Linked DNA regions of Homo sapiens: all the other regions are reported to be linked to region 5. Evidence: microRNA targets listed by miRTarBase, many of them from high-throughput screens and not tested one by one. Region 5 holds a microRNA gene; each other region holds the end of a gene's coding sequence. Distances are from middle to middle.
Evidence for each region. The annotated mature microRNA hsa-miR-1233-3p reads UGAGCCCUGUCCUCCCGCAG and lies in region 5 at 2,141-2,160, opposite strand. An mRNA with a match to its seed (bases 2 to 7 or 8) in the 3' UTR can be bound and repressed. Matches are read on the target gene's strand: a 7mer-m8 pairs with bases 2 to 8, a 7mer-A1 pairs with bases 2 to 7 and ends in A, and an 8mer does both.

Region 1: miRTarBase lists TEX9 as a target of hsa-miR-1233-3p. The part of its 3' UTR that is shown has no 7-base or 8-base seed match.
Region 2: the mRNA of RAB42 is a reported target of hsa-miR-1233-3p. Seed matches in the 3' UTR shown: 7mer-A1 at 1,123-1,129 and 7mer-A1 at 1,287-1,293.
Region 3: the mRNA of ZNF585B is a reported target of hsa-miR-1233-3p. Seed matches in the 3' UTR shown: 7mer-A1 at 2,869-2,875.
Region 4: the mRNA of PROM2 is a reported target of hsa-miR-1233-3p. Seed matches in the 3' UTR shown: 7mer-A1 at 3,018-3,024.
Region 6: the mRNA of AP5S1 is a reported target of hsa-miR-1233-3p. Seed matches in the 3' UTR shown: 8mer at 4,021-4,028.

The regions. Positions count from the first base shown.
Region 1 is chr15:56,426,962-56,431,845 of GRCh38, forward strand. TEX9 (testis expressed 9) reads left to right here. Exons shown (of 12, transcript NM_001395496.1): 11 at 644-778; 12 at 1,406-3,193. The coding sequence ends at 1,483. It overlaps MNS1 (meiosis specific nuclear structural 1), which reads right to left. Exons shown (of 10, transcript NM_018365.4): 9 at 4,412-4,537; 10 at 1,763-2,232. The coding sequence ends at 2,140. Among named protein-coding and RNA genes, the nearest start is that of MNS1, 36 kb to the right of the region's middle.
Region 2 is chr1:28,593,541-28,598,542 of GRCh38, forward strand. RAB42 (RAB42, member RAS oncogene family) reads left to right here. Exons shown (of 2, transcript NM_001193532.3): 2 at 154-1,909. The coding sequence ends at 577. Among named protein-coding and RNA genes, the nearest start is that of RAB42, 3.8 kb to the left of the region's middle. RefSeq lists an enhancer at 1-453.
Region 3 is chr19:37,181,403-37,186,404 of GRCh38, forward strand. ZNF585B (zinc finger protein 585B) reads right to left here. Exons shown (of 5, transcript NM_152279.4): 5 at 177-5,002. The coding sequence ends at 3,825. Among named protein-coding and RNA genes, the nearest start is that of ZNF585A, 11 kb to the left of the region's middle.
Region 4 is chr2:95,287,924-95,292,925 of GRCh38, forward strand. PROM2 (prominin 2) reads left to right here. Exons shown (of 24, transcript NM_001165978.3): 21 at 288-377; 22 at 560-666; 23 at 1,010-1,083; 24 at 1,301-3,379. The coding sequence ends at 1,073. Among named protein-coding and RNA genes, the nearest start is that of KCNIP3, 6.9 kb to the right of the region's middle.
Region 5 is chr15:34,526,150-34,531,151 of GRCh38, forward strand. It overlaps MIR1233-2 (microRNA 1233-2), which reads right to left and starts at 2,222; the gene lies at 2,141-2,222. It overlaps GOLGA8B (golgin A8 family member B), which reads right to left. Exons shown (of 24, transcript NM_001023567.5): 16 at 4,033-4,119; 17 at 3,818-3,925; 18 at 3,513-3,600; 19 at 2,869-3,125; 20 at 2,458-2,601; 21 at 2,223-2,323; 22 at 2,040-2,140; 23 at 1,773-1,928; 24 at 1-1,685. The coding sequence ends at 1,483.
Region 6 is chr20:3,823,717-3,828,555 of GRCh38, forward strand. AP5S1 (adaptor related protein complex 5 subunit sigma 1) reads left to right here. Exons shown (of 3, transcript NM_018347.3): 3 at 155-4,839. The coding sequence ends at 581. Among named protein-coding and RNA genes, the nearest start is that of AP5S1, 5.6 kb to the left of the region's middle.

The sequences.
Region 1 (4,884 bases), 22 Mb from region 5:
CCTAGGAGTCTCACCCTCTAAATGGTATTTAGATGTCTGCCAAGCATTTGAGGGAAATACGTATGCATGTTTTGAGGGCTCTGTTTTTCTAGAATTTTGTACCACCTTGGCAGCCCTGCTCTCTGACTCCTCAGTCCAATAAGACTACTACTTTTTGCTTGAGTTCTTACCTCTGTGAACCCACAAACTGGAAAGTGCTTTTAGAAGAAGCTAGTTGAATGTGGATCTCAACCAGTATTTCTGCTCTTTCAAGGATCATATCGCTTCCAGTTTCTACTTATTATTGATTACTCATCTACACCTTCAAATATACTTTTTAAACGTTTTTAAAATGTTTTCAAATATATTATTTTTGAAAATTCATAAATCCAGAGTTTATGTTGGTTCAATACAAGCTACTTTGCCATTACTGGAATTAGAACTGAGTTATTTTAAAAACATTTTTTAAAAATGGGAAATACCTGAGCATGACTAAAAGCTATCAAATTCCAGTAATTCGGTAATGGAAAGCAATTTTTATCTACAAAAATTTTATATTTCAGTTTAAGAAAGTACTTTTTATTACTGTTGTGATGATAGTCTATAATTCTTTCCATTGAGGCTGTATATTAAAAATATATGGCACTTTTTTTTCCTTGTGTAGGACATAGCAAATGAAGAACACAAAAAAATTGAAGTGTTAAAATCAGAAAACAAGAAGCTAGAAAAACAAAAAGGAGAATTAATGATAGGGTTCAAGAAACAGTTAAAATTAATTGATGTTTTAAAAAGGCAAAAGGTGAGTCTATCATTAAAGTTAAATCATCATATTATTTGTAACTTTCTTACTAAAAAATTTAGCATTTTTCACTTTAGGTATGTTTTTGACATCTTTACGCACTGAACTTCATATAAAATGCATCATACATATGAAATCATATGAAATCTAACATTTATAGTGAGATATATGTGTCATCTAAGCAAGTGGATATTTTCACATAAGTAAGTTAGTGTAGAAAATGGGACTGGAAAATACAGTATAGGTACTTCTCAACTACAGAAAGTACCAAATTAAAGAATGACTATTAGGGGACTGTTTGCCTCTTCAAACCTTAGAGCGAACATCACTTCCAAACCACTATTGCTGCTTTCTCTAAAAATTCATAGTTCTGACACTTTCCTTCTTTGCAAAGGTCAGGTATTTAAAATATTATAGAATTATTATTATCTTAAAAGTAAGTTGGTTCAGTACTACTGTTGGACAATACCATTTCAAATATCATGCTTATTGGAATTAAGAGTATACATTCCTACAACAGAACTTATATTCTGACAATATATTATCCACACATTTTTACAAACTTCCTGTTGTTTGGTGGCCTACTCTTAATACTAAATCAGACAATATTGATTTTTTTTTTAACAGATGCATATTGAAGCTGCCAAGATGCTATCTTTCACTGAGGAGGAATTTATGAAAGCACTTGAATGGGGAAATTCATAAGTGATCTACTTCAGTTAGTCTCTATGACAGTATGTGATGGATACCCATTTTACTTATTGTAGTGGTTTGAATTATTTTTATTCTTCATAAGTAATATATTTGATTATGAAAGCAAAATAATTTCAAAGAATTCCCTTTTTAGATTTAGGAGATTAGCTATTAGCTCTTTTTGAGTTGTTTTTTAAGTTCTTAGCGTGACAATTAAGCACATCAGATAATAAAATTCTTGACTCTTTTCATTTATAATTCTCCTCCCTTACAGTAGACCAAAAAAGATGCTTTAAAAGAAAATTCCAAATATTTATTTCCCTGGCTAAATCAAGTAAGTAAAGTTCGTAAACACAGACAGAAGGCAGTTCACTTTGGGGTAGAGTTCTGTATTAGTCAAGGTAAATATACTGTCTTGAGGATGGGGATGCAAACAGTGCTCTGTAGTGTTGTAGAAATCGGATTTTGAAATTATCAGTACAAAAATAACAGCTTGATTAAAATTAATTTGTATCTGATAATTGTTTACAAGTTATGAAATTCAGTGATGATTTACAAAATCCAAACAGACAATGGATACCTAATGCCACTGAACTGTAAAACAAAAGTTATGCTGACATCTAGTGGTAACATGCAAAAAATCTATGCTTTACCCAATTTTGATGATATCATTTCTCTTCACAAATTTCACTCCTTTGTTGATATACTTTCCTGAACTCTTCACCAAGCAGATCAATATCATCCTCTTTTTTAAATACTCCCTACGAGAAAAATACTTTGTGGGTTACTTTTGAATACCAGAATATTTCACTAAATGCTTTTAAGACTGACAGACATAAGATTAGTAAAGTTATCTCCAAGGTAATGAAATCTATTCAACAGATTAATGAAACTTTAAAAAAATCAATACTTTTCAAAAAATAAGACTTTACATATATATTGAATATTCCTAGACTGACCCAATTTTCTGATTTATCAGCTCTAGTGTAGGAGCTTTTCATAGGAATCTGAGCTCTTCTACAAGTTCTACTGCTTGGATTACCTAGATAGGAAGGCACTTCATCTATACTGTACCCTACCCTTTTCTTTAAATAGCTCTATAATATGATATAATGGTGAGCTTCAGTAGATTCATGCATGGGATTAGTTCTTCATGCCTCAGTTCTATGGCTAATCAGCAAACAGTCAATCTTGCAGAAAAGAATCCAGGTTTGGAGTTAAGCCATTTAAGCAAACCCTTTGGAATTCTTCACTGTTCTATTTTTCTTTTCCCCTACAGTATACTGCAAAAGGCTCTTTAAAACAAAATTAAATATTTACTTAAATTGCAATCTAAAGAATAAAGAATTTTAGGGATAACTGAAGTCATTTGGCACCATTAGGACCTAAAGGATAAAGGTCATTTTTGGATATCAAGTTTATTAATCCCTCCTGCTGCCTCCACAATTATTTCCTCTACAAAAATATCAAATCCCAAAGAAAGACATTCCTACAATTTATAATTTAGTTTATGAAATGTATTAATTACATATGGATTTTATCATTAATACATCATTTTGTATTCCTTAATCCTTTCTAACCAATTAGACTATCAAGTCCTGTGGCCAGGCAGTAATTACCTATATATCTTTTTCCTTCCTTAGCACCAGAGTGAATATAATAAAATAAATATGCACTTGATTCTACTGAATAAAATATGAAATGGCATTTCTATAGCTGAAAGATGGCGATCTTATTTATATGAGTCTAGATGTTTATGTGGCCTATGAAACTGTTATTACTTTTTTAAGACAAGACGGGGTCTCACTCTGTTGCCCAGGCTGGAGTGCAGTGGCAAGATCATGGGTCACTGCAGCTTCAACTTTCCAGGCTCAAGCAATCTTCCAACCTCAGCCTCCAGAGTATCTGGGACTACAGGCGTGCATCACCACATCCAGTTAACTTTTTATTTTTTGTAGCAATGGCATCTCCCCATGTTTCCCAGGCTGGTCTTGAACTCCTGGGCTCAGGTGATCCTCCTGCCTCAGCCTCCCAAAGTGCTGGGATTATAGGCATGAGTTGCCATGCCCAGCCAGTTACTATTTTATTTGAAGTCACAGTGTGTCTCAGGTATACATTAAAATTCACTATCTTCTGGAATTTTAAAAATCAAGTTTAACTAGTTATAACTTCCTACTGTAGAGCAGATCTGTCTCAAGCTCAGTTCAACCATGTGCCTATTACTGGTGTTACCAGTGACAATGTTTTCATACACATTCTCATCTTTGGCATGTAAGTACTACAGTTCTAGGGTAGTCTCAAGCTCAGTTCAACCATGTGCCTATTACTGGTGTTACCAGTGACAATGTTTTCATACACATTCTCATCTTTGGCATGTAAGTACTACAGTTGTTCTAGGGTAGCTTTAGATTTCCTACACTAAAAGGGGAGAAAAGAAACTCTAAAATACAAACTCAGGCCAGGTGTGGTGGCCCACCCAGCACTTGGGGAGGCTGAGGCAGATGGATCACCTGAGGCCAAGAGTTCAAGACCAGCCTGGCCAACATAGCAAAATCCTGTCCTTACCAAAAATACAAAAATTAGCTGGGTGTGGTGGCAAACGCCTGTAATCCCAGCTACTCAGGAGGCTGAAGCAGGAGAATCACCGGGAGGCAGAGGTTGCAGTAAGCTGACATCTTGCCACTGCACTCCAGCCTGGGCGATAAATAAGGTACAAATTCAGTAAATCAAGCTCATACATCTAATAATGTGCTAAGACCAATCATTTTAGATATACTGAAATGGGCCCAGAGAGGTTCAGTGCCTGGACAGGAGGATCCCATTGCTGCTTCATAACCGAGCAAGAAGTGAGCAAAACCAAGGCACTCTAAAATCCAAATACCATGTTTTTTTCACTATTACAGGTCATGAAGATTACAACTTGAGATAAATCTCACTTACTTTAGGGAGATAGCCTAGTAAGTTTGTAGCATGCTCTTTAAGAAGTTTTAGCCTTTCTTCTTCAATAATTGCATTAATAAATCCTTGCCGCCTTTGCTGCAACTGCCACTCTTCTAGTTCACGTTGCTGGAAATGCAGATCAAATTTTGTTATCACAAAGTACATTAATCTTATACGAAGTTTTCAAATAAAACTACTCATGCAATGAATTAGATAAAATTGATGAACTATTTATGACACTAAGTTCAAAAGATTCTAGATAATATATATTTTTAAAATATATATTTTATGTCTGTACACATATCTATGTATTTTTTACTGTCATTATTCCTTTAAAATTACAAGGAGGCAAACAAATATTTTCAGGAAAGTGTCTTCATTACCAAGGGAAAAAATATTCAAAGGAGTGACTGCCTAATACAGTAAATATTTACTGAATGCTTACCATATACCAGATGCTGAAGAGTTTACAG
Region 2 (5,002 bases), not on the chromosome of region 5:
CACCGAGGCAGAGAACCACGGGGCCGTGTGAAGTGAGCCCTGTTGGGGTGTGAGGCATTCTGTGGATCCCAGGGGGAGGAGGTCCTGCCTCTGGGGGTGTCATGGAGGCATCAGCCTCTCCCAGCTTACCTTTCCACCTCCCTGCCTCCCCAGGTGCATCACCAGGTCCTTTTACCGGAATGTGGTGGGTGTCCTGCTGGTCTTTGATGTGACAAACAGGAAGTCCTTTGAACACATCCAAGACTGGCACCAGGAGGTCATGGCCACTCAGGGCCCGGACAAGGTCATCTTCCTGCTGGTTGGCCACAAGAGTGACCTGCAGAGCACCCGCTGTGTCTCAGCCCAGGAGGCCGAGGAGCTAGCTGCCTCCCTGGGCATGGCCTTCGTGGAGACCTCGGTTAAAAACAACTGCAATGTGGACCTGGCCTTTGACACCCTCGCTGATGCTATCCAGCAGGCCCTGCAGCAGGGGGACATCAAGCTAGAAGAGGGCTGGGGGGGTGTCCGGCTCATCCACAAGACCCAAATCCCCAGGTCCCCCAGCAGGAAGCAGCACTCAGGCCCATGCCAGTGTTGACTCTAGGAGAGAAAGGGTTAAAGCAGTCCCAGCCTTAGCCCACCTGGTGGGATGGGGAGTGTTAATATCTCTCTGGAGGACAAATGACAGAAGGGTTCATATAAACAGTATCCTGACACAGTCATGCTTCCTGGATTTTGGAGTCGAGGCTTTCTACAGAAAAGAAAGTTCTGATGGCCAGGCATGGTGGCTCACGCCTGTAATCCTAGCATTTTTGGAGGCCAAGGACAGTGGATCACCTGAGGTCAGGGGTTCGAGACCAGCCTGGCCAACATGGTGAAACCCTGTCTCTACTAAAAATACAAAAATTAGCCAGGCGTGGTGGTGCATGCCTGTAATCCCAGTTACTCCAGAGGCTAAGGCAGGAGAATTGCTTGAACCTGGGAGGCAGAGATTGCAGTGAGCCAAGACTGCGCCACTGCACTCCAGCCTGGGCAACAGAGTGAGACTCTGTTTCAAAAAAAAAAAAGAAAAGAAAAGAAAGGCCTGAGAGACCAGATGTGCAACTTCCTGTCCTTGAGCCTCAGTGTCCCTATCTATCGATGGGGCTCATAAAAGATCCCACCTTGAAGGGAGGTGGTGACCACAAATGAGACAGTGGACAGGATGTGCTCACCCAGAGCCTGCCGCGCTGTGAATTGAATGACAAAAGCTCTCATTCCCACTCCCTTTTTCTTGGCTGCGATGTGGCCACTCTGGCAGCATTCCTGGGCTCAGACACTGAGAAGCCAGCGTCAGGAAGCTGATGCATGGGCAAAGGCAGGTGCGGGGAATTCCAGGGGGAGCTTGGCTTGGAGGCTTCTTATGTCCTCAGGCTAAAATGATTCTGGGCATGGGATTAATATGTGACGTCAAACCCAGGGTTGCTGGCCAATGCCCCCCCGACCAGGCCCAGGGGCTGAAAAATGGATGTTGGAGGCTGGGATGAACATGAATGTGTAGCAACTATGTTGGGCACACAGTGGCCACTGTGATGAGCCACCAAGATCCCCCTTTCTGGCTGGGGAACCCATCAACCCTCTCCCCAGCTGCTGGAGTGCCACTGGATGATGGACTTCAGCTTGCCCCACTCTCTGGGAAAGGCCCTCCCTTCAGGGCAGCTTGTATCCAAAGTTCATCTCCTGGGGGGCCTTAAAGGACTCCCTCTTGCCCCAGCTCTGGACAACTCTGAAAGTCAAAACCAACTTTATCAGTCTCTGTGGGCTTCATTGAGGACACTGTTGTGACATCATAGCCAAGTTATCCCCTTGCCCAATCCTGCTTCCTTTTCTTCCCCAAACAGGTATCCATTTCAAGAATATCCCCTAATAAACATCTGCACACTCATCTCCATCTCAGAATCTGCCTCCTGGTAACCTAACCTATGATGGGAACTGCTAGGCAGGGAATGTCCTGGGAGCAATTAGGGAAGGCTTCATGGAAGAGACACTGTTTATGTTAGGCCGAATCTCAGCAGGTGTAGGGCTTAGTGGGTATCATTGTGCTGTAGCAAAAAGCACAGCCACTTTGCTGGGTGCAGTGGCTCACGCCTGTAATCCCAGCACTTTCGGAGGCCTAGGCAGGCAGTTCACTTGAGGTTGGGAGTTCGAGACCAGTATGGCCAACACGGCGAAACCCTGTCTATACTAAAAATACAAAAATTAGCTGGGTGTGGTGGCTCATGCCTGTAATCCCAGCACTTAGGAGGCTGAAGCATGAGAATTGCTTGAGCCCAGGAGGCAGAGGTTGCAGCGAGCCACGATCCCGCCACTGCACTCCAGCCCTCTAACTTGGGTGGCAGAGCAACACTCCGTCTCATAAAAAAAGAAAAAAGCATAGTCACTTAACTCTCTTTTGTGACCTTGAGCTAGTTACTTGGCCTCCTTGAGCCTTGGTTTCCTCCTCAGTCAGTAACATGAGACTGATAATCCCTCCCTCCTAGGGTTCTTAGAAGGTTTTCAGAATGAGTTTCTTAGCTTCCTCCCCATGGAGAGGGGGCTGAGGGGTCTTCCTGTGCACTTGGTCCTGCCTCTTTTTTTTTTTAAACCCATAAAAATTCACCTGTTTTATTTTGTGGGGGGTGGGGAATATCCATTACCTCAGACATTTATATTTTATTTGTATTACAAACAATCCAGTTATACGTTTTTATTTCTAAATGTACAATAAATTACTGTTGACTGTAGTCACCCTGTTGTGCTATCAAATGTTAAATCTTATTCATTCTATTTAACTGCATTTTTGGCTGGATGTGGTGGCTCACGCCTGTAATCCCAGCACTCTGAGTGCCGAGGTGGGCGGATCACCTGAAGTCAGGAGTTCGAGACCAGCCTGGCCAACATTGGTGAAACCCTGTCTCTACTAAAAACACAAAAATTAGCTGGACATGGTGGCATGTACCTGTAATCCCAGCTACCGCGGAGTCTGAGGCAGGAGAATCACTGGAACCTGGGAGGCAGAGGCTGCAGCGAGCTGACACCGTGCCACCGCACTCCAGCCTGGGCGATAGAGCGAGACTCCATCTCAAAAAACAAATAAATAAAAATAAAATAAAAATAAAAACTATGTTTTTGTACTCATTAGCCATACCCACTTCCCCCCACCACTACCCTTCCCAGCCTCTGGTCACCATCATTCTACTCTATCTCCATGAGTTCAATTGTTTTAATTGTTAGCTCCCATAAGTAAGTGAGAATGTAAAAAGTTTGTCTTTCTGTGCCTGGCTTTTTTCACTTATAATTCCAGTTCCATCCATGTTGTTGCACATGACCTGCCTCTTCTTTTTAAACATCCTTATTCATCCTTGTGACGTGGTGAGGTTGGCACAATCATCCCCATTTCACAGATAAGAAAGCTGGGGCCAGGAGAGGAAAATTACTTGCTTTAGGGTATCTTTTCATTCCTTCATCGTTTTTTTTTTTTTTTCCTTAGATACAGGGTCTCGCTCTGTTGCCCAGGCTGGAGTGCAGTGATGCAATCACACCTCACTGCAATGTCGACCTCCTGGGCTCAAGTGATCCTCCCACCTCAGCTTCCCAAGTAGCTGGGACTACAGGTGCACTTCACAAAGCTAACTTTTAAATTATTTGCAGAGACAGGGTCTCACTATGTTGCCCAGGCTGGTCTCACACTCCTGGCCTCAATCAATCCTCCTGCCTCAGCCTCCCAAAGTGCTGGGATTACAGGTGTGAGCCACTGTACCTGGTCTCCTTCATCAATTTTCTTTCTTTTTTTTTGAGACAGAGTCTTGCTCTGTCGCCCAGGCTGGAGTGCAGTGGGGCGATTTCGTCTCACTGCAATCTCTGCCTCCTGGGTTCAAACGATTCTCCTGCCTCAGCCTCCCAAGAAGCTGGGACTACAGGTGTGTGTCACCACACCAGGCTAACTTTTGTATTTTCAGTGTTTCACCATGTTGGCCAGGCTGGTCTCGAACTCCCGAACTGAGGTACTCTGCCTGCCTCGGCCTCCCAAAGTGCTGGGATTACAGGCATGAGCCACCGTGCCTGGTCCGTCAGAGGCTTATTATTATTACTTTGAGGTGGAGTCTTGCTCTGTCACCCAGGCTGGAGTGCAGTGGCGCAATCTCGGCTCACTGCAACCTCTGCCTCCTGGGTTCAAGCGATTCTCCTGCCTCAACCTCCTGAGTAGCTGGGACTACAGGCGCACGCCACCACGCCCAGATAATTTTTTGTATTTTTAGTAGAGATGGGGTTTCACCATGTTAGCCAGGATGGTCTCGATCTTCTGACCTCGTGATCCACCCGCCTCAGCCTCCCAAGAAGATGGGACTACAGGTGTGTGCCACCACACCAGGCTAACTTTTGTATTTTCAGTAGAGACAGGGTTTCACCATGTTGGCCAGGCTGGTCTCGAACTCCCAACCTCAGGTGATCCACCCGCCTTGGCCTCCCAAAGTGCTGGGATTACAGGCGTGAACCACTGCGCCCAGATGCTTCATCAATTTTTTTTTTTTTTGAGACAGAGTTTCACTCTTGTTGCCCAGGCTGGAGTGCAATGGCACGATCTCTGCTCACTGCAACCTCCGCCTCCCAGGTTCAAGCGATCCTCCTGCCTCAGCCTCCCTAGTTGCTGGGATTATAGGCATGCGCCACCACACCTGGCTAATTTTATATTTTTAGTAGAGATGGGGTTTCTGCATGTTGGTCAGCCCGGACTTGAACTCCTGACTTCATGTTATCCACCTGCCTTGGCCTCCCTAAGTGCTGGAATTACAGGCATGAGCCACTCCCAAAGTGCCTGGTCCGTCAGAGGCTTATTATTATTATTATTTTGAGGCGGAGTCTTGCTCTGTCACCCAGGCTGGAGTGCAGTGGCGCAATCTCGGCTCACTGCAACCTCTGCCTCCGGGGTTCAAGCGATTCTCCTGCTTCAACCTCCTGAGTAGCTGGGACTAAAGGTGCGTGCCACCACGCCCAGCTAATTTTT
Region 3 (5,002 bases), not on the chromosome of region 5:
AGGGAAGTGAGGGAACTGTTCTCTGTCTTGACTGTGGTATTGACTGCATGATGTAATTGTCAAAACTTTGAGAATTCCACACTAAAAAGGGTGAATATTACTGTATGTAAATTATACCTCAATAAATACGACCTTAAAATATTACAGTCATGTTCACACAAAAACCTGCACACAGGTGTTTATAGCATCTTTATTCATAATCAACAAAACTTGGAAGCAATTAAGGTGTCCTTCAGTAGGTGAATGGATAAATAAGTCATGGTACTTCCAGACAATAGCATATTATTCAATGAGAAAAAAAAAAAAAAAAGAGCTAGCAAGCTACGAAAAGACATGGAAGAAACTTAAATCCACATTACTAAGTGAAACAAATCAATCTGAAAAGGCTGCATACTTTATGGTTCAGAGGCAAAATTATGGAGACAAAAGAAAATAGCCAGGAGTTTAGAGGAGTAGGCGAAACACAGAGGATTATTGGGACAGTGAAACGGCTCTTTATCCTTCTGTAATAATGCATACATGTCATTATTCATTTGTCTCAACCCACAGAATGCACATCAAGACTGAACCCTAATTAAACCATGGACTTTGGCCGATAGTGTCAATGTAGTTTCATCAATTGTAACAAATGTACCACTCTGAAGGGGGATGTTGATGATGGGGGAGGCTGTGTATATGTGAGGGTAGGGGATATATGGGAAATCTCTGTACCTTCTGCCCCATTTTGCTGTGAACCTAAAATTTCTCTAAAAACTAGTCTTTTATATAAATGGGCATACATATACATATATATGTCAGCACTAAAATATCACGTTACAATAAATATAAAGGAGAAATTATTGAAAGTCATGTACAGTGAAATGTGTTTTCCTCCATATTTCCTGGAATTCATGAGGAGTGATACACTTAGGAGTAAGGTAAAATGGGAATAATGAAGGGGACCAGACCTTGTTCTAGGGTATGTTAGGAAGGAAGAGGTGATCTCCAGGCACCCTCCTGAGAGTCAGCTGACATTGTCCTAAGTTGGGGATAATGTTGTATCACAAAATATCCAAAACTGAAGGAAGAATAGTGAAGCTTCAGATACAGTGCTGGATGAGGTGAAGGGAGGTAATGGGTGAGCAGACATTGGTCTAAGATGTTGAGCAGCATGTGATGGGCCATCAGATACTGTGAAGAAGTGAGGAAGCAGAGCTAATGATGGCTCAGTAGACATTGATCTAAGGTGAGGTAATGGGATGTGTCACCAAGCACTGCCCAACTAGGGCTTGGGAATTAAAGGGGCATTGTGGCCCTGCTTCTTTGACTATGTTCTATCCTTTGGGCCCCATCTTCACCTCCCCATACTGCCCTTCTTAAAGGTGAAACCATCTTTGCAGAGCCCAAATAGTTCCCACTCCCAGAACTGCCAATAGACTGGCCCCAGACGCCACCCAGCAACTGTGCATCTAATCAGATCATCTGTCAGCATCTGTAAGGCCACTGCTGCCTATCTAGGGCAAGATACCTAATATCCAATGAAGATCCACCCAAGTCTGCTCTAGTTCCCTGCTATTGGCTTCAGGCACTCCTCTCGGGGCAGGATGAGCAGGTGTGTGGATTGGGTTCTGGAGTAAATGCGGCTCTGTCGAGTTGCAACTGAGACAGGACAGCGCTGTGCATGCTGAGGAAAAATGAGCAGGGAGTCTTTTGCAATCATGTTGGAGCTGTGGGATTCTGGAATCATGGCAGGAAATCCTGGAAGCAAGCATCCACATGGGATTTCCTGTACCTGTTTTCCCTTCTTTAGCATCAGACCAAAAGGTTCACAATGACTTTTTAGCTTTAGGGTTGAGAAGGGATACAGCCCAGGTACAGACTAGAGGTGAAAAAGCCTGGTGTGTTTTAGCCAAGTTGGTTCTCCCTATTAGCGCTTCTTATGCTGCAACACAGAAAAAAATCAGACAGAAGTCACGCAACAAGCATGGGTCAACTCTCCACAGGTGCATTTATGGAATGCCTGCTGTATGGCAGTCATGGGTCTAGACTCATAGTGGTGAACAAAAGGGAAATATTTTCTAGTGTAGAAGCCACAGAGAAATGAGGAAAATACACCAGGCAGCATGGTGGAAATTGCTAGGGAGAAGAATAAAGGAGGAAGGGTAAGGGGCTGGAATTTTAAACCAGGCAGGCAGGGAAGGCCTGTGTGGAGGTGTCATGGAAAAAAAGACATGACGGACAAGCCACAGATAAAATAAAGAATTGTGCTCTTTGCAACGGGCACTGCAAATACAAAGGCCCTGAGTCAGGAACTGATGTTTGAGGCACATGGCGGGGAAGGTCCTTGTGGGGTGCGTGGGACGAAGATGGACACAAGTAGACAGTGAACATATGGTGGGGTTGGTTTTCATATGAGTTATCAATTTCATATGATTTATGATTTATCTCATATCTCATATAATGTAAGATAATGATTTCATGACTTATCAACTTATGAAAGTCAGATCATTAAGGAAAGTAAAATGCTGGGCTTCAACTCAGTCACAAGTAAATTAAAAAAAAAAAAGAGGCAGGCAACTGAGTGAGAAGAATTGTAATAGCAGAAGGAAGAATTTAAGTTCTCCCAGATGACCTGAAAATCCTAACCTCAAAGGCTTTCTTGAGGGTGGTGGGAGTGTACAAAACACTGTGCTGGGCCGGGCGCAGTGGCTCACGTCCGTAATCCCAGGACTTTGGGAGGCCGAGGCGGGCGGATCATGAGGTCAGGAGTTCGAGACCAGCCTGGCCAGCATGGTGAAACCCCCGTTTCTACTAAACATACAAAAATTAGCTGGGCGTGGTGGCACACGCAATCCCAGCTACTCAGGAGGCTGAGGCAGGAGAATTGCTTGAGCCCGGGAGACGGAGGTTGCAGTGAGCCAAGATAGCGCCACTGCACTCTAGCTTGCCCGACAGAGCAAGACTCTGTCTCAAAAAAAGAAAGAAAGAAAGAAAGAAAGAAAGAAAGAAAGAAAGAAAGAAAGAAAGAAAGAAAGAGAAAGAAAGAAAAAGAAAGAAAGAAGGAAAGAAAGAAAGAAAGAAAGAAAGAAAGAAAGAAAGAAAGAAAGAAAGAAAGAAAGAAAGAGAAAGAAAGAAAGAAAAAGAAAAAACACTGTGCTGGGTGTCAAACACAATGTGCTGAGAACCTGTGGGGCTCAGAGAGAGTCCTGGCAGATAATGAAGGGGACTGTAAGTCTTTTTCTATGACAATGGGGACTCAACATACGCTCTGAGGTCTGTGTCTGAATACACAGGGAGTTTGTCTTATTGCAGTATCTCTTGCTTGATAGAAATACTCAATGGGGAATTGGATATGCACAACTGTGTTCGATTCAAAAGAAGAAAATACCCACAATTCTACTAGACAGTGTGTTCTGGAACAAACAACTCACAGAAGGATTCATCACTATCATATATATTATGTTGTCTTACCATTCAAACTGTTGGCACTATACCTAATCCACAGTAAACAGGATTATCATTCCCATAATATGATCTTTCTTATGAAGAATTTGGTAACAGTATTCTATTGTAGTTTTCATGAGAAGGCTTTTCCTATTCACCAAATTGACTCGGTTCCTTGTCAGTATGAATAATGACCCAAGGTTTACTGGGGATGGTGACAATGTAGGAAGGGTCCCTCGCCTCATTCAGTGCCTTCTCAGAGGCCCTCTCCAGAACAGCCATGTGTGACATTCTGATGTGGTCATTTCTATTTACAATAATATACATATTTTTCTGCTGCATGCGTGCAACAGTGTACAATCAGACCCAACCCTCAGGGGGGTTTTCTCACACTGTTTCTCTCAAGCGTGGCTGCTCTGATGAACACTGAACACTGATTTCTGAACGAAGCCTTTCCCACAGATGCCACACTTGTAGGGTTTGTCTCCAGTGTGTGTTGTCTGATGTTTATTCAAATTGGACCTGTTGCTAAAGGCCTTCCCACACTCAGCACACACGTAAGGCTTCTCTCCAGTGTGAATTCGCTGATGCACTTGGAGCTGTGATTTTTTAGTGAAAGACTTCCCACAGTCACTGCACTCATAAGGTTTCTCTCCAGTATGAATTCTGTGATGTGTAATCAACTCTGACTTCTGTCGAAAGGTCTTCCCACATTCAGAACAAATGTAGGGCTTTTCTCCGGTATGAGTTTTCTGGTGCTTACTGAGATTTGACCTGCCACTAAAGGCTTTCCCACACTCGGCACACACATAGGGTTTCTCTCCTGTGTGAACTGGCTGATGCACCAGGAGCTGAGACTTGGAGGTAAAGGACTTCCCACAGTCACTGCATTCATAAGGCTTCTCTCCAGTATGAATTCTTTGATGAGTAATAAAGTTTGACTTGCGGATGAAAGCTCTTCCACACTCAGTGCATACATAGGGTTTCTCTCCTGTATGAATTTTCTGATGAACAATGAGTATTGATTTCTGGTTGAAGGCTTTCCCACATTCGTGGCATTCATACTGTCTCTCTCCAGTGTGAATTTTCTGATGTATATTAAGATTTGACTTCTGAGTAAAGGCTTTTCCACAAGTATTGCATTCATAAGGCTTCTCCCCAGTATGGATTCTCTGATGTGTAATCAAGTCTGACCTCTGGGTGAAGGCCTTTCCACATTTGGAACATATATAAGATTTCTCTCCTGTATGAGTTTTCTGATGTGTAATGAGATTTGACCGGTTGGTGAATGCCTTCCCACATTTATTGCATACATAGGGCTTTTCTCCTGTGTGAATTCGTTTATGAACATGGAGTTGTGACTTGGAAGTAAACAATTTCCCACAGTGACCACATTTATAAGGTTTCTCTCCAGTATGAATTATTTGATGTGTAATCAAGTGTGCCTTCCGGATGAAGGCCAGTCCACATTTCATGCATATATACGATTTTTCTCCTGTATGAATTCTCTGATGCACTGTGAGTGCTGACTTCTGAGTGAAGGCTCTCCCACAGTCACTGCATTCATAAGGTTTCTCTC
Region 4 (5,002 bases), not on the chromosome of region 5:
TGTGTGCTTTCAAGCACTGTGGCTTGACACACAGTGCTGGGTCATAGTAGGCCTTAATCCAGGCTGGTGAACAGATGGAAAGGGGAGGGGCCCAGCGAGGAGTCTGTAGAGTATGTCCGCATCTGTCTGTACCTGCCTCTCTGCATGTGTATACAAGTGTGCGGTGGCCCCAATGGTGTCCCCAGGCCTTTCTGTGTCCCTGTCAACCACTCTCCCTGAATTGAATATGGGTGTGCGCCTGTGGGTCCAGGTGTCTCTGCATCACCTGCCTCATGTTGGCGCCACAGGTGACTCAGCGCATTGCCACCTGCCAGCCCCTCTCCGGAGCCCTGGACAACAGCCGTGTGATCCTGTGTGACATGATGGCTGACCCCTGGGTGAGTGCCCCAGCTCATCGGGGCTTGTTCACCAAGTCCCGGAGCCTTCCTGCTCTCCAGGGAGGGCCGGGTGAGCAGGGTGTGAAGCCAGGCATGGCCTCTGCCCCGGCTCTGATGACAAGGCAGCTGGGTGAGGCTGGGTGCCACGTGGGTTGGTGAGCCGACCTCACGCCTTGTTGCAGAATGCCTTCTGGTTCTGCCTGGCATGGTGCACCTTCTTCCTGATCCCCAGCATCATCTTTGCCGTCAAGACCTCCAAATACTTCCGTCCTATCCGGAAACGCCTCAGGTGAGGGGCTGCCAGGGCTGCAGGCAGCATCAGGGGCCAGGGAGGTGTCCTTTCAGCCGCCAGGGTCCCCTGTCACAGCCCCTCCTGAGACCTCCCAGGCAGAGGAGGCTCATGAGCGAGCCCTGAAGAGCCACACTCTGAGGAGCTCCAAAGCCAGGAAGTTCTCCCGTATGTCTGCCCCTTACCCTTCTTGCTGCATCCATTTGGGCGCAGCTTCGTGGGACCCTTCCCATCCCCCACAGGGCTTCCGAGGAGAAACCCTCAGGGCTCTGGGTTTGTCCCTGTGTCAGGGCTGAGGGTCTGGGGGGAAGGGTATGCTCACTCTCTGTCTTTGACACTGCAGCTCCACCAGCTCTGAGGAGACTCAGCTCTTCCACATCCCCCGGGTTACCTCCCTGAAGCTGTAGGGCCTTGTGGGTGAGTTTTCCCCAACTCGCTTAATTGCTCCCTGCCAGGGATTAAGGGAGTGGGGTGGGGAGGGGCTGGGGTCTGGGGTTTCCAGGGCCTAGGAGGGCAGGAAGGCTTGGGGACATGGTGGAGTCTGGGTATTGGGTGTGGCCCATCCAGCAGTGGGGCTGACAGCCCTGTTCTCCCCTCCCTCCCCTTCACCCGTTTCCTTCTTAATCCCTGACAGGGTGAGGTGACCCTGAGGCTGCCTGTCCTCCCCTTTGATTTAGCCTGGGCCACAGGACTTCGGTAGCTCTTGCCCCAGAGCCCAGGCTGGCATCCAGGCCTGGACTGTCCCCAGTTCCGGCTTACCTGGCCCCACCTTGCCTGCTCCTTTCCACCCCTTTCTGCTCACGACCCCCATCATTCACGCTCAGAATCACATGGGACTTCTGTGCAGCTGCAGAGCCAGCAAGTCCCTCCAGGTGTCACCCCTTACCCCCATGCTGGTGGCATCCTCACAGGAAGAGCCTGTTCTCCACCTGCTGGAGCCTGGACCCTGGGGTGGGACAGAGGCCTCGTCCAACCCCACTCCCCTTCCCGTGTGTCTTCCCCCTGCCAAGCCTCCCCCTGCCAAGCCTCCCCCTGCCCCTCTCTGAGCCCCTCGCCCCCCACACCGTCCTCATCTGGCCTCCCCCCTGGCCCCCACTTCCCTCTTATGCCCTTCCTGGCCCTTTGCTTCCTCCCTTAGTCCCCTCTTCACCATATCTCCACTGCTACCTTGCTGGCCCCAGAGACCACCCTGCCCAACCAAACCACTCAGGTAACGCCACTAATCAGGCAGGGGCCACCATGGCCTAGGTCTGGGCTGGCTGCAGGCCCTGCCTCATGGCCTCTGAGCCCTCCACTGCCCCAGGGCCTTGGGCCCTCTGCAGATCTCATCCAGGATTTATTGGTGTCCAGTGGGGTGAGGGAGGCCTGTCTGAAGGCCGAGCCTCCCTGCCTGCACCCAAGTTAGAAATGGGGGTACCAGCACTTAGCTTCTCTCTGAGTGCTGGCTCCCAAGGAAGGGACCTGGGACCTGGGCCACAGTGGGGGCTTGCCCTTACCTCTTCAGAAGGAAGCATCTTCCACAGCCCCCACCCAACTTTCTTAGGAGTGATCTGGTGGCCAGAACAGGATTTTGCACGGCCCCTTTTATCCTGCGCATGTGGCCTAGGGTCATCCCCAGCCCATCCCTGTGTCAGCCCTGAGTGCTGGACACTGCGTTCCAGAAATGAGGAAGAGGAGAGAGAAGAGATGGACAGACCTCAGATCCATTAAAGTGTTCTCACTTCCCTGAGACTTGGTTCTGGGTCCTTAAAACCAGGTTTCCTAGGCTGGGACCCTGTACATAGTTGGTGTTTAATGAGTGTTTATGGAGAGGAGAGTTCTAAGGTCACCTCTGGCTGCAGGCATCCAGGGATTATTCCAGCAATCTGCAGGTAGGGAGTGGGTCCCAGCCTGGGAGCCTGCTGTCAGGAGCAGGCAGACCTGGACTCACAGCCTGGCTGTGATGCTTGTTCGCTCAGCTTCTCCATTTATGAGATGGGGAGAATAGTCACAGCCTCCTCAAAGGGTTGTGAAAATCAAATGTGATAATTTGTGGAAAGCCCTTAGCAGTGGCCTGGCACAAAACAAATGCTCAGTGGATGGAAGCTGCCTATTATTATTGTCGTTGTTGTTGTTTGCCATGACTGCTCTGGGCCGGGGGTAGAGCTAGCATCCGGGCATGTACGAGGGAAGAGGGAGGCAGGCCTCTATTCAAAGGCAGAAATTCCTTTAAGATTGTGGTCTGCTGGGTTTCAGGGAGTGTCTGTGTTGTTTGTTTTTGTTTGTTTGTTTGTTTTGAGACAGGGTCTCGCTCTGTCACCCAGGCTGGAGTGTAGTGGTGCAGTCTTGGCTCACTGCAACCTCCACCTCCTGGGCTCAAGCGATTCTCATGCCTCAGCCTCCCGAGTAGCTGGGACTACAGGTGTGTGCCACTATGCCTGGCTAATTTTTGTATTTTTTGTAGAGACGGGGTTTTGCCATGTTGCCCAGGCTGGAAGTGTCTATGTTTAACTGCATCTTATAAACCAGCAACAAGTTTTCTACTGGGAATTAGAATGGTGCATACACAATGTATTATTATCACTGTCAGATGAGCATGCTTGAATGTAGCATGACTGCCTCTTTTTGCTTTTCCTAGAGGTTTTTTTTTTGCTTGTTACTCATCTGTTGACCTACCTGGGGGAAGTAGCACCCTTGCATTTCAAAAATAAAATTGATGGCATTACAAATGGAATAGAAACCATTTTTAAAATATTTTCAGTTCTCTTTCAAAATTACCTATTTTATCTTTTATATATTTGAACATATTAAGCATAGTTATTTTAAAGTTCAGTTAGTCCCTTATATGGAGCCTCCATGAGTCTGTTTCTAGTGCCTGTTGTTTCTCTTGTTTTTTGTTAGTTTTGTCCTGTCTCCTCCCATACTTGGCAATGTTTTAATTGAGTACAAGTAATTTCAGGTCTAGGATGGAGTTATCTTCCTCTATGAGGATTATGTTTACATCTGGCAGGTGGCTGGGGATGCAGTGAGCCAGATCTCTTTCATCTACTTGTAGGGGATGAGAGGATTTGAGTCACTTTAAGGGCTGACCTACTTCTGTTTCATTCATATTCATAGGGTGAAGCCCACTGGGGCTCCAACCCAAAGCATGAAACATTTGCCAGGTAGCCTTCCTGTTGGTGGGCTTTGCAGTGTCTTCTAGAATCAGCAGACCCCCTACAGAAAACGTAGTCCCAGATGCCATGCATATGTCTCTGAGTTGCCTTCTTTTCCCAGATCTTGGCCTTGTAATTCTTCACTGCTTTGTTTCCTGCCCAATACTCTCAATTAGACTTAAATATATATATATACGTACATATATTTATTAAATATATATATATACGTACATATATTTATTAAATATATATATATATAACTTTAAAAGCTGTTCAAAATGTCCTCCCCCGCCCCACACACACACGCAAATTTTGAGCAGCTTTTTAAGTTGTCCTGAACTGGGAATTTGGTCCAAATTACCCAGTCCACAGTTATTAGAAGTAGTCCTAAAAAACTGACTTTGACGTTCCCATTATATATTGGGAAAAGGCTGCCACTCTTTGAATTTAGTGTTCAGAAACTGTGGCCCAGCTAATTGAACATTGTCTTTTGAAAGGAGTTTTGTTTAGAGAGCAGCACGGTAATACTGGTTACCCGGGGATGGGGTGGCACTCGGCAGTTGGCAGAGAGAAAGAAATAGCCACAGAGAAAAATAAATTACCGATTTCTCTGGCTTTTAAAATGCTGGAATCCTAAAATGCTAATGCTACTTTATATGTGAAACAAAGCCCCTTCGAGGTCACAATCTCTCTCTTCTGGCCCATGACTGTCTCTGAGGGAGCAAATTATCATCTGGTTGAGCAGAGGAAGCTCCAGGAAGTTACATAGCTGGTTCAGGGTCTCAGAAGTTGAAGCCCAGCCAGGCTTTGGAAGCAGGTCCCCTGGTCCTGGTGGCCCTGGAGGTTTCTTCCTGGAGGCAATGCCAGTTCCCATTCCCTGTGGGCATGTGGGAGCGAGGCCCTATCTCCAAGGTGACTTGAACCAAGTGTCCTTACTGTCCCTGTGGCAGGGATGACAGATTGGGGGTGCTAGGAGTTCTTCCAGACCCTTCAACCTGGCCACCCAACAGAAGGCCTCATGGTAGATTCTGCCAAACAAATGCCAGATGGGCCAAGGTGTCTAAGGTCCCAGGTGGCTGCTCAGGGCAGCTCCAGCTGGCTTGAGGTGTACAAAGGGAGAGCCAAGTGGCTGGGGCAAGAGCCTGCCCAACTACCTGAAGGGACAAACAATGTGAGTTAACATTTATTTACGGAGTTCTGAG
Region 5 (5,002 bases):
GTAAAGAAGTTTGTGAGGAAATACAACTCTGCGATCGTATAGACATGTTTCCTGATAATACATTGACATTCACAAACAGTAGATTGCAGCACAGTGTGTAAACATTTTCAGTTGCATAAACTTCTCCTTGATTTTCAAAGATAATATAATACTGTCTACTAAAATTCCTTTTTGTTTCAACTAAGTACTCTCACATATATTAGTTTATAATAATGTTTGTTATTATTTTCTAAAGTGTTTTCCACTCAAGGAAAAGAAGTAAATTCCTATGTCAGAGTAACCGAGGTGGTTGAAGAATAGGTATTAGCCAGAGAGGTCTAGATAGTAAAATCAAACTTCAAGCCTCAAAGAAGCTCCATGAACAGAGAGGAATGCCAGGTGTCACACAGCTTTCCTTCACTCTAATTCATTCTTGACTAGAGCCTGTATGCCTGTTTCAGAGACATTTAAACTCTTAAAGGATGTCTTATGATCTTTACTAAATACATTAAGAAGAATGCCAACCAGCGCCCTTTCGTGTACTGGGACAGGTAGTCATGTGATTAAAACAGGGAACACGAACTCTGACTTTAAAATGTATTGTAGATACAAATGCTCTAAGCTAGGAAAGGTTTTCCACATCCACAGCCAACGATGGCAGCCTTTCATTCCTCGGAAATAAGCCATTTTTAGGTCACTGAAAAAGAGTGCAACTGCTGCAGCTCACGATGCAATATCTTCATGAGCCCAGAGCACATACAAATCCAAAGGGAACTGCCACAGTACAGTGCTCATTCTTGGCACCGGAACAGATGAAACACACTGTATCCTGCACATACCTGCCAGAGCAGGCCACTTTCCTCTTCTGCGAGATTTAGAAAGCTCCCCCAAAAGGTTATCACTCCCATCACCAATACACAGAAAATGGAGGAAAGGCTGTTTCCAGTTCTCGGCCTTTAAACAGCTCTAAGTGTCAGTACTCATAGTGGCATATTACAAAGTAATAAACAGTGCACACTTGAGGGCAAACCGCATATTGAGCTATGGAAGAGCTCACTGTGATTAAGATGAGATCAAACATCATAGCAGAACATTAGCAAATTTTATCTGAATTCTGTAATGAACATCCATGCTGCAATAACATTAAAAAAGCACGGGAGCCTATTCCAAACCAGCGAGAACAGTTTTGTGCAAAGAGTGGGTCTTTGTGTGTTTGAACTCCCACCACGTAAGGGCAAACTCGATATGCATGCTAATGACCTACAATTATGAAATGAAAAAAGAAAAATGCTAAAGGATGCCAGAGTGAACATCAGTGAGAGGCACAGAGACCCACTCTCTTTTAACTTTTTACAAATAAACTTAAACTATAAATTAGAAACACAAATAATCATGAGTAGCTCTAACATTCAAATGAAGTAAATGAATTGTGTAGGAGATTAACCCCATAACTTTGTTTCGTTTTTAAAAATTTCTTGAGCAGCTCTTTGATGATGGTGGTGTTTATCTCCTTCTTCTCGGCAGCCAAGCCCAGCAAAAGCATGGCACACAGCAGTTGCTGCCCAAGCCTGGGTGCTCCTGGTGGTCCTGCATCTCACCAAGGAGCTGCAGGACTGGCTGTGCAGTAGGGTTGTCCTGGGAAGAACCCTCCCTGGCTTCTCCTTGTGCAGGCTCCACGCTGTTGGTGAGGCTCGCCTCACAAAGATCTTTGGAGAGAGAGAGGCGGGGATCTGAGTGGAGTGCTAGCCGCCCCCCGCTCCTGCCTGCTCACCCCGCCTGGGGGCTCTACTCACCACCATGCTTGTCGGCAGCCCCGAGCTCCTGGGGGGCTGGGGCTCCTGGACTGGGTTCAGCAGCAGGGTTCCGGGCAGCGGCCAGGAATTTGCCGTGCCCCTCGCTGTAGCTGCCACAAGCCGCAACACCATCTCCTGCAGCTCCAGCAGCTTCACCTGAAGGGACGGGTGCTCAGCTGTCAGGCCGCTGCTGGCGCCCACCCTCATGCCCACCCCACCCACACCCCCACCCCACCCCCACCCCCACAGGGATGTTGCACACCCTACCTTCCTCTCCTCCTTGTCCTGGGCCAGCCTGATGATGGCCTCCTCCCGGTGACGCATCTTTGGCACTGTCCCCTGGCTCTGTTAGAAGGCGATGTACTTTCCTGCGGGAGGACAGGGCTCAGACGCTGGGGCCCCTCCCATAGCCCTGCAGCTCCCCCTGCCGTGCCCTGGCCTCCCACTCACTGATGGCATCTCTCTCTCCGGTACTGGATGAATCCAAGTTCCAGTTTCTCCACATGCTCCCTCAGGTCCGCCTTCTCCTCCAGGAGGTCCATAAGGCCGCTCTGGAGCCAAAATAATGGGGTCACATCTCAGCAGCGACCTGCCCCAGCCCTGCCCTTCTTGGCCCATGCTAGGACTCACTCCCCTCCAGCTTCTCCATGACTTCCTGCAGGGCCCGGAGGGTCTCCCCACTCACAGACTCGCCCCCAGTCCCTGAGGCTGGGACTGCTGCCTCTGGCTCCTTCTCGGCCGAGGTGAGCGTCTCCATCACCTGGCCCAGCTTCTCCTGCAGCTCCTTTACTTGCTGCTCCAACTGCAGTGCGCTCTTGTTCTCGTGCTTCTGGACAGAGAGAAGCAATCAGCAGCCACCCACTGCAGCTGGAGACCCCAGAACTTGGTGTCTGCCTCCCATGGCACCGGGAAGGGTGGAGCCAAGTTAGAAAAATACTCTCCTCTCTCCCACAGCCACCAGAGCAAAGCTCTGGCTCACAGGTGCCTTTGGAAGTAATATTTCATGTGAGGGCTACACTGCCCCATTTTACAGGTGGGGAAACAAAGGCCTGGAGGGCTAGGGAGGAGGGCAGGCTCCCCAGGTGGGGCAACCCACCAGCTCCTCCAAGTCGCTCTGTGGCTCGGCCAGCTGCTGAAGCCTCTTCTCCCGTTCCCGAAGCCTCTCCTGCTGCTCCTGAAGCCTCTCCTCCTGCTCGCGAAGCCTCTCCTTTTGCCCACGGTTCAGGAGACTGATGCACTGATTGTTTTCCACCTGAGCCTGGAGCTCTCCTGCCACTCTCTCCAGCTCCTTCCTCAGGTCTTGCAGCTCCACCTCAGAGGACACTGCTGGGGCATCCGGGGGCAGTGGCTCAGCTGAGAAAGGAAGCAGATCATAAGGGCCTCTGGATTCTCAAAACAAAAATCAAAACAGAAAAAACAACAAAACACCCTCCTGTTGGCGCACAGCTCCTCTCAGGCTCCCAAACTTGGCTTCACTGCTAACGATCCCTCGCACCCGGATGGTAGCCAGTCTTCCAAACCACTTTCAGATAGAGAGCACTGCGGGTGGCTGACAACGGGCCCTCTTTGCTCATGGGGACACTGAGGCTCAGGGAGATGACAAGACTTGTCTCCTGGCACAGACCTCTTTCCCTCTGCCTCAAAGCCCTGCCATCCACCCACCTCCCTGGGGCACTCTAAGCCACCCCCACAGCCCTCTGATGCCAGTCCTGCTCCCAGGTCATGCCAGCCCCATCTTACCCATCTGGTTTTTGAGTCTGGACAAGCTCCTCTCCAGCTCCTCTACCCGATGCGTATCATGCTTCTTCTCCTCCTTCAATGTGCAAACCTGCCCAAAGCACAGGGGGAAAGGGCCCTGGAGAGAGGGGCTGGTGGCTGGACAGGCTCCCATCTCCCTCTCTGCCCCCACCTCCACAAAGCCCAGACCCAGGACCACCTCTGGCTGCACTATTCCCATTTTAAAGAGGCCCAGAAAGATCCAGTGACCTATCTTAAGTTGTTGGTGGGGGGGGGGTGGGGCGGGAGGCTGAAGGGTCAGATCTCACCTCCTGCGACATTTTCCTCATCCTCTGCTGCCACTGGGCCCTCTCTCCTTTTATTTGTTCAGCATATTGATCTCTCTCCAGCTGGACTTCTTTAAGCGACTCCTTCAACTGCAAGAATGGCCACACAAGTTAGGAAGGGCCGTCACTGGTCCTCACCTGCTCCTGGCCACCTGGGGTCATCTTCCTTCCACATCCCTCCCTCTGCAAAACCTCACCTGTGTCACGTGTCCTTTCAGCAGTATCTGCTCCCGTATGGACTGCTCTAACTGCCGCTTGAGAAGTGCTTTACTGCGGCTCGAGAACTGGATGGTGAAGAGTGAGAAGTTTCGATCTGGGGAGCCTGGGCCATTCCACACAGTGCCCCTTAAAAGGGCTAGGGCTAGGCTCAATATACAACTCGGTCAGTAAAGATCAAGGCATTTCCAAGCCCGTGGTCTGGTTTTGAAAAAAACTCAGTGAAGTTGGAAGGGACAAGGAGAGAGATCAGATAATATTGCTATTGTTATTACTCCCACTGTTTGAACCTTTATGGAGTGCTTCAGCAGGTACCTTGCTAGCAATCCCATTTAATCCTCGCAACCACCAGAGGAGACAGTTACTATGATGCCCTCTCTTGGGTAGATGAAAAAACATGGAGTGTTTGAGGTTAAGTGCTTGCCTAAGATCACTTAGGCAGAGCTAGGATTTGAACACCCAGGTCTATCAGATTCTCTAAGCCCATTTTTCTGCTGGGGGTGGGGGCACGGTTAGGAAGGGGAAAATTAATCTTTTGTTCACTTTTTGAAAAGATGATACATTCACATAGTCCAAAACTCGGAAGGTATCAAAGGGAAGTATCTCCCAGCCACCCTGCTGCTCTCTCCTGAGTTGTTTACGAACACTTGCAGACATGTTTTATGTATATTATCATACTATGTACACACACACACACACACACACACGTTTCCTCTCTCTACAGAAATGGGAACATACTAAAGGTACCCTTCTGTACCTTCACAGTACAAGTACCCAATACCCCACACCCCACCTAGGACTTGGCCAAGACCACAGCCAGGTAAGGGCAGGGCAGGCACTTGGCCTCCAAGCTCTGCATCCAGTGCTCGCTCCCCACCGCGCCCCCCGACTCACCCACAGCAGCTGACTCAGCCTCAGGCTGCCTCTAACAACCATACACAAAAGCAGTGA
Region 6 (4,839 bases), not on the chromosome of region 5:
TTCTGTGGCCCTGGGCAGATCACTTAGTCTCTCTAGGCCTCAGTTTTCTCACTTGAGATATGGGGATGATGGTAGCTCCCAGCACCAGGGTTGATCATGAGGATGACAGAGTTGGTGTGTGAGCCCACCAGCCTGACCTGCCCACTCTCCCCAGGCAGGTAGAGTCAATGTGTCGGCTGCAGCAGCAGGCATCTGGCCGGCCCCCCATGGACCTGCAGCCGCAATCCTCAGATGAGCAAGTGCCGCTGCACGAGGCCCCACGTGGGGCTTTCCGCCTGGCAGCAGAGAACCCTTTCCAGGAGCCACGGACGGTGGTGTGGCTGGGCGTGCTCTCGTTAGGCTTTGCCCTGGTGCTGGATGCCCATGAGAACCTGCTACTGGCTGAGGGCACGCTCCGGCTGCTGACACGCCTCCTCCTTGACCACCTCCGGCTGCTGGCGCCCAGCACCAGCCTTCTGCTGCGGGCTGACCGCATTGAGGGCATCCTCACCCGCTTCCTGCCACATGGTCAGCTGCTTTTCCTCAACGACCAGTTTGTCCAAGGCCTGGAGAAGGAATTCAGTGCCGCTTGGCCCCGCTGATTCCTCGTTGGGATGGTGCTTCTGAGGGCAGGCAGAGGGTAGACACACAGCCAGATGAAGCTTGGCATCTCCCTCCTACCCAGCAGCTCTGATGTGCTGCTATACCAGGACAAGTGGGTGACACAAGCCTGCAGAAAGGGGGCTGGGCAGAGGGTGGAGGAGGTCCTGCCTGTCCTCAGGTTAGTGGAACCACAGAACTTCCTGAGCCTAGAGCTGCTGTGTTACTTAGACCGCTGCCGTGCGGCAGCCACGCTTGTCCTTGAACCCACCTTCCTCCATCCCTGCCAGCCGATAGTGCTAGGGTGAGGAGCTGCCTGGAGCTCACCCCGCTCTTCTTCCAAACCCACAGTCAAGGCCAGGCGCGGTGGCTCACGCCTGTAATCCCAGCACTTTGCGGGGCTGAGGTGGTTGGACCACCTCAGGTCGGGAGTTCAAGACCAGCCTGGCCAACATAGTGAAACCCCATCTCTACTAAAAATACAAAAATTAGCTGGGTGTATGGCGCCCACCTGTAATCCTAGCTGCTCAGGGGGCTGAGTCATGGGAATCACTTGAACCTGGGAGGCAGAGTTTGCAGTGAGCCGAGAGTGCGCCACTTCACTCCAGCCTGGGCAACAGAGTGAGACTCCATCTCAAAAAAAAAAAAAAAATCCCACAGTCATCGAAACACAAAAGGGGTCTCAGACTCCCCTGAGGGTGGAGGAGCTGTGCCTGCATGCTGGCAGGCCACAGCCCCTGGCTTTGTGCCCACTTAGGCAGTATTATCAACAAGGTCCTGCTCAGTGTCCAGCCCCCGCTGAGTTCAGAAATGCATCTGCCAATCAGCAGCAGGATTCTGCAGCTCCTTTTGTGCCAAGCCCGTTCCCACCAGGCAGGCTCGAGATAAAGTCATCACAGCCTTCCCTCATCTGCAGGGAGAGAAGTTGCTGTCAGATGAATGTGAGCAGTCTAGCCTGGATGACATATTTTTCGTTTTGAATTAAAAGCACTGGCTGTGTGATTTTACCCTCTTTCTGTGAGTTTGATGCGTGCATCCTGCTCCTATGAGTGAGTGCCTCTCTGGATGGCCCCAAAGCTGCGTGTCTGAGCTTTCGTGGTCAAGGATCCCCCTAGGAGGCTTCTTGGGATGCCTCCATCTCTCATCCCCACCTCACCTCTGTCTCCTTAGAGGCCTCCTTTGGATGGTGGCACACATTTCTCCACCAAAGTATATGTCACAGGTGGCAGGTGGCTGTGGCAGAGCCGTCTGAGAAGCAGTGCTTGGGCTGAGAATTGGTGCGAGTGGTTTATGTGGGGTGGGCGGTGATCCCGGGAAGCAGGAAGGGGACACAGTCCTCGTGAATGCTTGTCAAGCCTATTAGGACTGTGGTAGGGAGCTGAGTGCCTCTAGGGGGCTGCACACAGCAGTTGCCTCTGAATTACCTCACCTGAGAGGTGGCGGCTGTGGGTGTTTGCCTACTGCCTTTAGTCAGTGGTTACAGGTTGATCCCAGGGTGCATACATTCCCTGGCTCTTTCTGCCCCTGAGAAAAAGCCTTCAGGCAATGTGGAGCTGGGCCTGCCTGCACCATGTTGAGTCCCAAAGGGATATGGGTGGGGTACCAAAAGTCGGTGGTTAGGAGGTCTTCAATCAGCAGCTTCTAGTGAAGGTTTAAACTTACTCAGTTGGGGGCGGGGGGTGGGGGAAAAACCACTTCAGTTTACATTGATTTTCATGATCTTCCTGTTACCAAGGAAGGTGAGGCTTTCTTGGCAGAACGAGCCTCCTAGGTGCTCAGCTCTCATGCTTGCCATCCATCAGTTGCCCTTTAGCATCCAGGATGGACCCAACTACACCCACTTTGGAGGCAGCACTGATGATTAGCCCTTCCAAGTCCATGGCCAAGGCCACCAGCCATGCCAGGCCTTCTACCACCACTGTCAACATAATTGGGATGAGGCCACCTTTTCCATTTTATGGTGCCACAAACCACCTTGACCATGAAGACCTAAAGGGATGTTACTCTGTGTGTGTGGCCAAGTCCCACCAGTGGAAATGTCCCACAGGCCTCTAGTAGGGACACCCCTTCCCTATACATTCTGTTCTCCTGGCCCACCCCTCACCCCAGGCTGGCGGTCCTGGTGGATTGGCTGTGTTCTCAGGGAACAGGCCATTTTGTCCTCTATGGAAAGGCTCAAGCTTACTGATCTGAATTCTTTCTGCCTTTTTTTCAAACGGAACTTAAGGAAGAGGTTGAGACTCTGCTCCCCTGGGAGCTGTGGGAAGTTGAGGTTAGGCGTGGCTGGTGGCCTGGTTCTCATGAGGTGGGGCAAACTGATGGACAAGAGAATAGTAGAGACTGAGACCACACCGTGGGGCTGCTGAGCTCCAGTTCCTGTCCAGCTGGACCAGGGTTTTCTTAACCAGATGAGCTTGCCCAGCACCCTTCCCACACTTCACACTTCTGCCCCAGCCTCTTGGGCTGGGTTTCCACCACAATTTATGCTCACCATATATTTATCGAGCCTCCCTTGGGCCTGATGCTCTGCTGGGTGCAATGCAGGATACAGAATGACCCCAAAGTTCCAGGAGAGACAGAGCTAAGGCCAGGTGACTGCAGATGACTGCAAAGCAGCAATGGTTTGAGCATCCCTGAATTGCTGCTCACAAGTGCTTTAAACACCTAAAGGAAGAAGGGGCACTTCAGTGACGAAGGCCAAGTGAAGGAGCCAGGATTTAGAACTAAAAGTGAGATGGCTATGGAAGCAAACTTGCCTCCCTCTCCAAGCCTCTTCCCTTTCTTCTCCCTGCCCCAGGAACCCTGGCCAAACCACATATCCCTCAGCTTCTTGAGAGAACTAGAGACTTTGAGCAGCTAGTAGTGTTACCAGTGTACCTCCACAAACACTCCTGGGACAACAGATGATGACAGGAGGGCAGTAGAGCCCAGAGAAGAGAGCTTACCTGGAAGGAGGAAGAAGTCACAGGTTTTGTTTTGTTTTGTTTTAGGCGGAGTTTCTCTTTGTTGCCCAGGCTGGAGTGCAGTGGCGCAATCTCGGCTCATTGCAAGCTCCGCCTCCCAGATTCACGCCATTCTGTCTCAGCCTCCCAAGTAGCTGGGACTACAGGTGCCTGCCACCACGTCCGGTTAAGTTTTTCTATTTTTAGTAGAGACGGGGTTTCACCGTGTTAGCCAGGTTGGTCTACATCTCCTGACCTTGTGATCCGCCCGCCGTGGCCTCTCAAAGTACCGGGATTATAGGCGTGAGCCACCACGACTGACTGGCATGAAGTCACAGGTTTTAAGGCAGGAACTGGCCTGCATGTATGTGGGTCACTGATTGGGTCACATACACTGCATGTATGTGAGCCCTGGGATGGGATTGGATCATCTTGTCTCCTTTAGGGCAGGGTGTTTTTTTCTAGCCCTGTGGTGCTGCGCACTGTCCAGCATCCCCCCAGGGCTCAATGTTTTCTTTTCTTTTTCTTTTTTTTTTTTTTTTGAGATGGAGTCTCACTCTGTTGCTCAGGCTGGAGTGCAGTGGTGCAATCTTGGCTCACTGCAACCTCTGCCTCCTGGGTTCAAGCAATTCTACCGCCTCAGCCTCCCAAGTAGCTGGGATTACAAGCATGTGCCACCATGCCTGGCTAATTTTTGTATCTTTAGTAGAGACAGGGTTTCACCGTGTTGGCCAGGCTGGTCTCGAACTCCTTACCTCAGGTGATCCACCCATATTGGCCTCCCAAAGTGCTGAGATTACAGGTGTGAGCCACCATGCCTGGCCTCAATCTTTTCTTTTAAACAATTATTCCTATATTTTATTGTAATGCAGTTAACCGTGTTTGTCAGATTCAATACTCTGTGACCCGTTAACCAAGTCTCTGTATGTTTATTACTGCAATTCAAGTGGCCGTGACCGTTTTCTTAAATATACTTTATTTGTTTAGTGCAATTTTAGGTTCACAGTAAAACTGAGCAGAGGGTACAGAGAGTTCTCATTTACTCCCTGTCCCCACACATGCACAGCCTCCCTTATCACCAACACTGGGCACCAGAGTGGTCATTTGTTACAACTGATGGACCTTCATTGACACGTCACTATCACCAGAGTCCATAGTTTACATTAGGGTTCACTCTTGGGGTGGTACATTCTATAGGTTTGGATGTATTTTCAGTGACATGCATCTACCATTATAGTATCATACAGAAGAGTTTCCCTGCCCGAACAGTCCTCTGCTGCACCTGTTCATTCTTCCCTCCCCTCAACCCCTAGCAACC